Linked DNA regions of Homo sapiens. The protein of the gene in region 1 interacts with the protein of each later gene in a biochemical or structural test. Each region holds a gene or a part of one and is shown on either strand. Other genes may lie near its edges.

Evidence for each region. The genes of interacting proteins can lie anywhere in the genome.
Region 2: the proteins of ARNT (region 1) and NPAS2 form a complex in vitro, tested with the Homo sapiens proteins (one study listed by BioGRID).

What each region holds. Positions count from the first base shown.
Region 1 is NC_000001.11:150,866,359-150,870,366, forward strand, and holds part of ARNT (aryl hydrocarbon receptor nuclear translocator), read right to left. Parts: intron 1-4,008. UniProt on the Homo sapiens protein: Required for activity of the AHR. Upon ligand binding, AHR translocates into the nucleus, where it heterodimerizes with ARNT and induces transcription by binding to xenobiotic response elements (XRE).
Region 2 is NC_000002.12:100,823,139-100,826,638, reverse strand, and holds part of NPAS2 (neuronal PAS domain-containing protein 2), read right to left. Parts: intron 1-3,500. UniProt on the Homo sapiens protein: Transcriptional activator which forms a core component of the circadian clock.

The DNA of each region.
Region 1 (4,008 bases):
TGTGAATAATCTTATTCTCTCTGAAGCTTATAGGATATTCTCTATCTGATGCTGAAATTTCAGCATAATGGGCCTTGATGTGTGCACAGCCCCTTTGATCTGGAAACTAATGTCTTTCACTGGGACACTTTATTTAAACAGAAACAAAGAATTCTGTTAAAAGAAATAAAAATGATGCCACTGGAGAGAAGGAAATGAGAGAAAGGGAGCAGAGGACTCCCTTATAATTTTTTTGTAACAAACATTTTATAAAACTATCTAAGTCTTTAAATATTAATATATGGATGTATAGTTTTGATTTAAATAACTTTTATATATGTATGTATACACACATACATATACACACACACACACGTATATTTGGCAAAAGACCTGAGAAGAGTTAATAACCCAGATAAACACATAAAAAATAAAATCCAAACACTTATAGTTCCTTAGCCTGGGGAAATGAAAAACTGAATTGTGATAGTGATGAAAGATACAGAAAGGTAGGAAGAACAGCAGATTTAAAGGAAATACTGGTGAGTACATACATATATAGGATGTTAAAGATTATTCAAATAGAGGCTGGGCGCAATGGCTCACACTTGTAATCCCAGCACTGTGGGAGGCCAAGGCAGGTGGATCACTTGAGGACGGGAGTTCAAGACCAGCCTGGCCAACATGGTGAAACCCCATCTCTACTAAAGATACAAAAAATTAGCCAGGCGTGGTGGCACACTGTAGTCCCAGCTACTCGAGAGGCTGAGGCACAAAAATCATTTGAACCTAGGAGGCGGAGGCTGCGGTGAGCCAAGATCGCACCACTGCACTCCAGCCTGGGCAACACAGAAAGACTCTGTCTTTAAAAAAAACAACAACAACAAAAAAAAACAGATTACTCAAATAGAGCTGGGCATCGTGTCATACACCTATAATCCCAGCTACTAGGGAGACCAAGATGGGGGGACTACTTGAGCTCAGCAGTTCAAGACCAGTCTGGGCAATACAGTGAGACCTCATTTCTATAAATTAAAAAAAAAAAAAACTATTCAAACAGAGATGCAGCCAGGCACAATGGCACACACCTGTAGTCCAGCTACTCAGGTTGCTGAAGTGGGAGGAATGCTTGAGCCCAGGATTTCAAGACCAGCCTGGGCAACATAGTAAAACCCTGTCTCAACTTTAAAAGAAAAAGAGAGAGATATCTTTTAAATAGATAAAAATATAGGAAAGTAGTTTATGTGAGAAGCCAGGAATGAAATTTTTGGAGTCTTTTATACATAAAAGATAAATAAAGGGTGATATGGTTTGGCTCTGTGTGTCTCCACCCAAATATCATGTCAAATTGTAATCCCCAGTGTTGAAGGTGCAGTCTGGTGGGAGGTTATTGGATCATAGGGGTGGTTTCCAAAGGTTTAGCACCATTCCCCTAATGCTCTCTCATGATAGAGTTCTCAAGAGATCTGGTTGTTTGAAAGTGTGTAGCACCTTCCCCTTCTCTCCCTCTATCCTGCCAGCCATGTGAAGACATGCTTGCTTCCCCTTCGCCTTCCGCCATGATTCCAAGTTTCCTGAGGCCTCCCCAGCCCTGCCTCCCATACAGCCTGCGGAACTATGAGTCAATTAAACCTCTTTTCTTCATAAATTACCCAGTCTCAGGTAGTTATTTATAGCAGTGTGAGAATGGACTAATACAAAGGGAAGAGGACTATGGTAGGTACCAAGTGAATGTCAAATTGAAGTAGGAAGGCAAGCAGCTAGAAAGGCAGGTAGGTGGGCAAATGGGAAGAAATGAAGGAAACTGCTTGGTTTACTATTTAGTTCTAGCCCCAAGCCGGGCACTGTGGTGTACACTTGTAATCCCAGCTACTCAGGAAGCAGAGGTGGGAGGATCATTTGAGCTCAGGAATCCAAGACCAACGTGGGCAACATAGCAAGACCCTGTCTCAAAAAAGAGTCAAGACCCTGTCTCAAAGAAGAGTCCTAGCCTCAAGGGTGAGAAGAGAAAAGTAGAAGCATACTGAACAAGAGAAAGAAACAAGCAGAAAGATAAGCAAAAAGGACAAAGAAGGAACAATCAGTGATAAAGACCTAGCAACAGTGTCTCTGAAACCAAGTTTCTAGGAGAGGCTCAATTATGGAGTATCAAGAACTTGTAGAGGATTCTAATAACAATCCTAAAAGCTGCAGTGCATGATTCATGCCTGTAATCTCAGCAATCTGGGAGGCCAACAGCAGGAGGATCACTCGAGGACAGTAGTTCAAGACCAGCCTGGGCAGGCCGGGCGCGGTGGCTCACGCCTGTAATCCCAGCACTTTGGGAGGCCGAGGTGGGCAGATCACGAGGTCAGGAGATCGAGACCATCCTGGCCAACATGGTGAAACCCCGTCTCTACTAAAAACACAAAAATTAGCCAGGCGCGGTGGCACGTGCCTGTAGTCCCAGCTACAGGAGGCTGAGGCAGGAGAATCGCTTAAACCCGGGAGGCAGAGGTTGCAGTGAGCCGAGATCACGCCACTGCACTCCAGCCTGGGTGACAAAGCAAGACTCCGTCTCAAAAAATAATAATAAAATTTAAAAAAAAAAGGACCAGCCTGGGCAACATAGCGAGATCCTGTCTCTACAAAATTAAAAAATTAGCTGGGCATGATGGTGCATACCTATGGTCCCAACTATTCAGGAAACTGAGGAGTGAGAATCGCTTGAGCCTAGGAATTGGAGGTGTTGCAGGAAGCTATGGTCACGCTACTGCACTCCAGCCTGGCTGACACAACAGGACCTTGTCTCAAAAAAACCCTTAAAAGTATTTAAAGAATTGAAACATAGAACTAGGAGAAAGAAATATAGAATGTTAGGCTGGGCGCGCTAGCTCAAGCCTATAATCCCAGCACTTTGGGAGGCTGAGGTGGGCGGATCACAAGGTCAGGAGATCGAGGCCATCCTGGCTAACACAGTGAAACCCCATCTCCACTAAAAACACAAAAAATTAGCAGGGCATGGTGGTGGATGCCTGTAGTCCCAGCTACTCGCGAGGATGAGGCAGGAGAATGGCGTGAACCTGGGAGGCGGAGCTTGCAGTGAGCTGAGATCGTGCCACTGCACCCCAGCCTGGGTGACAGAAGGACACTCAGTCTCAAAAAAACAAAACAAAACAAAATGAAGAATTATAGAATGTTACAGAAAAGATTTTAGGAAACTACTCCTTTTTTTTTTTTTTTCCTAGAGACAGGGGCTCACTCTGTCAACCAGATTAGAGTCCAGTGGCATGATCATGGCTCACTGCAGCCCTGACCTAGCAAGCTCAGAGATCCTCCCACCACCTCAGCCTCCCAAGTAGTTGGGACTATAGGCATCCACCACCACATCTAGCTAATTTTTTTATATATATTTTTGTGGAGACAAGGTCTCCCTATATTGCTCAGGCTGGTCTCCAACTCCTGGGCTTAAACAATCCTCTCACCCTGGCCTCTCAAAGTGCTGAGATTACAGGTATGAGCCACCACACTCAGCCTGGAAACTACTGTTCTAGCTCCTTTTTTTAGCACCTTGCACTTGGTTCTCCAACCAAGCAATGCCTTGCCCCCAGGCTGCCTAATGTGGTATTTCACCCTTTTCATCTACAAAAAAGACAATACTCCACCTACCTCCTTCTCAAAAGATATCCATTGTACTATATTTCAGTAGGAAGGTGACTCTAAGTCACAATGGAAAAAATCATAACTTGGAGATTAAGAATGATGACTGTGTAGATGGACTGCCAACAATAAAATTCTGTCTCTAACTTCTAGTAGCTATGTGACTTCAGACAAGTTACTTATTCACTCTCTGTGCCTTAGTTTCCTCATCTGTAAAACAAGAATAATAATACTTACCTAATACGATTGTTATAAAAATTAAATGAGAACAGCTGGTAAGTATTACTAATAAATATTAGATATTATTATAGTTAGTACAAATTCATGATGTCAATGGCTTAATTAGTTTTATCCCTTCAAAGGTATTTCATATTAACAGTGGGTTTTACA
Region 2 (3,500 bases), on another chromosome or scaffold:
AGTCAACTCAATAGATTATTTATTAATAGGGATGGGTTAAATAACGTCCTATTTGTACTTCTGAATAATACTCTGTAGCCTTTAAAAATAAAGAAAAAGGTATGTCATTAAAAATCCATGCCATATTAAGTTGCTAAATAATATACATAAAATGAGTTCAGTTTTTGTTTTTATTTTTTAGTTTAATTTTATTTTTTTGAGACAAAGTCTTGCTCTGTTGCCAGGCTGGAGTGCAGTGGCAGGATCTTGGCTCACTTCAACCTCCGACTCGCTGGTTCAAGTGATTCTCCTGCCTCAGCCTCCTGAGTAGCCAGGATTACAGACATGTGCCACCATGCCCAGCTAATTTTTATATTTTTAGTAGAGACAGGGTTTCACCATGTTGGCCAGGATTGTCTCGAACTCCTGACCTCGTGATCCGCCCGCCTCGGCCTCCCAAAGTGCTGGGATTACAGGCGTGAGTCAGTGCACCCGGCCTTAGTTTTTAAAAGTGTACATATGTGTGTGTATATGTAAATGCGCCAAAAATGACTAGCAGAACATGCCCCATGGTTATCAGTCATTACCTCCTGAGAAAGGTGGAGAGTTATGGGATGCTTTTGGCTACAACAGAAAAACTAGCTCAGTTTGCTTCATCTGGTAATGGTTTCATGATCTCACACATGTTCAAAAACAGACTCTTCTTTGTGTAATTCAGAAAGTCAAGGGCACCACGGAGACCTCCCCGCCCCCTGCCCTTCTTCACCTTTGCATTCTTCCGCAGGTCAGCTGAGACCTGGCCCAGCCCCTCTGGTGGCTGATGGCTGCCCAGTTTGCAGGCATTATGGCCACATATCACAGTATCTAGTGGAAGGAAAGGACTGTTTCCTTCCTTGTCTCTTTTGAGAGCAGGGAAACTTTCCCAGAAGCCTCCCAGTGGCCCACCCTCACATTTTATTGGCTAGAACAGGGTCCGCATGCTCACCCTGAGCCAGTCACTGGCAAGGGCAGCAGCCCCACCCTCACCAGGGTTGAGTGGCCAATCTGATAAACCTCCAGAGGCAGGTGTGGGTTGGCAGTCTACTGTACAAAATCCAGTTTCTGCTAGGCAAATAAAAGATAGGGCGATGATTATGGGTAGGCCACAAGGATGAAGGGAATTTTTTTTCTTTCTACTAGAAATGGTTCTGTGCTATTTGAAAATTTTTACAAGATTATATCCATGTGCTTTTTAAGATAAACTAATATAAAAATATTTCAATGCATAGAAAAAACACTGAACGGAAAATATATCTTGAAATTGTGGGGTTTTTTCCTTCTTTTCTATCTTTTCCAAAAACTATGTACTTTTATAAACAAAAAACCAATAATTTTCAGATGACCTCGAGCTCTTAATATTTTATCACCAAGGGGCACAAATATCATTCATAAAATTGTGCATGTCATTTTTGGCTCAGAAGAGGCTAGAAGAATCACGCCACTAGGTTCTGTCACCTCGTCACCTGTCTGTCTTTAGATGGGCCTGTGTTTTCTGGAAGCCTGGATGATTTTCAGTGGTCTGGGAACATTATCTGCCACGGCCTTCAGCAAAGCAACAAAGTCCACAAATTGAGTCCTAGGGTCCAACCTCTCAGCTTCAGCCCCCACCACTGCTCCCATTTCCATCCTGGTACTCCCATGCCTGACGATGCCTTCCTTTCCCTCTCTCGTCTCCACCCTCACCCAGGCCTGCCTTGGCTCCAGGGGGTTCCTCTGCTTTTCCTTCCCCCTAAACATCAAACTGCCATTGCCATTCTCTTAGAACTTGGTTTTCAAGATTTACTTTCAGGGAGCGTGGAAGGCAAATGGTAGCAGAGAAATCGCCTTTGCAAATAATAAATGGAATCCCAAAATATATTTTAAAAAATCAGAGTGATGTTGGTTGAAGTGTTTTCAGGGCCACCCAGGTGACCCCTCCTAATATCAGGGTGAAGGACACCATTGCCTTGCAATATCCATCTCTCCTAGATGGCAGGAGGAAGCAATATCTTAGAGTGCAAAGCATAAAAGGCACCCCAGGTGAATTCCAACACGCTCGGCACTAGTTTCAAGTAACTCGTACTATGGTGGAAAGACAGATTGATGGCTTTGATCCTGGAAAGTGACCCACCACAGAATAGACCAATGCCCCTCAAAGAGGAGAGGTGTTTGTCCTCTCCACTACATTTTTAAAGAGCGCTTGATTGCCACTAGCAGTCTTGATCAACAGAACCTACAGCTTAAGTACCAAGAAAAGCTTCAGATGAAAATATCCTAGGAAGGGCTATCAACAAAGCAAACCAGAAGCCAGGGACTGCAGGAGAGGGTGGAGATAAGCATGCTCCCAATAATTTTCCATTTTGCCTCTGATTAGCTTCCACAGCTGCCTGCCCTCCAGCCCTGGCCCGGTTCTCCACGGCCGGCCTTGGGTTTGCTGGTAAACCAAATTGAATCTCTAATTGGTGAACTACATGGAACATATTTTAGTAACCTCTTCGTCCTCCTTGCTTTCCAGCCTCCTCTCTCCTATCAACAGTAATAAAAGCAATCACTTTTGTTAGGCCTAACACGCGTCCTTTACTGGTAATTCTACAAACTTGGCAAGGTAAGCATCATTTGCACTGTTTTTCTGACAAGGACTCTGAGTCTCAGGTTAAAAGTTGCCATAGCTGAGCTGGGAGGCTACCCCAGGTCTGTCTGACTTCAAAATCTGCATTTTATTTCTTGCCAAGTCACAAGGCTCTCCATTCAAATATGACTACAGGTCAAGGTCAGCAATGTGGAAGCCCTACCAGCAACTCTCCTTTCCTGGGCCCCTTTCTGGCCACCACCCCAGAGAATGGCATCCCAGAACCTCATTTTCAGTTTACAATCCCTCTCTCTCTCCCTGCCACCTCACCTTGTTAGCTCCTCAAGGGCAGGTACAACCCATCTTCTCATTTTTTTATCATCTGGGCTCTCTATGTGGTATATGCTCAGTAAACATGCTGAACTGGATTCAGTGCATCCCAAAACCTTGCCAGCGTGCAGCATCTGGTAGCTGTGAGAAATGCAGCTCGGGTCCTCTCCCAGGTGTCCTGAGTTAGAATCTGTGTTTGACAAGGGCCCCAGGTGATTCTCGGGCACTATGATATCCAGCATCCTCCATCTCCTTATACAGTTTTTTTCATACCAGTGTAGAGGATCAACACTCTCCTTTCTATTCTGAACCATCAAATGGAACCACCCATTGTTTTAAGACTTGCAAAAGTTCAAGTGGTCTCTGGGGGAACTTTACCTAAGAAATGACTTTGCTTAAAATGCCAAGGACTCCTTAATCTCAGTTAAAGAATTCAAGTGAGAAGCAGTTGTGCCTTAAAGACTGCATTAAAAACTCCCCCTTTAAACATACGCTCATATTTAATACATGTTTATTTAGTGCCCTGAGATACTATTAATCATCATCACCTTGAGATTTAAAATAGAATTACTCATAGTTAAGTACCCCATTAGCATTCAGAAAT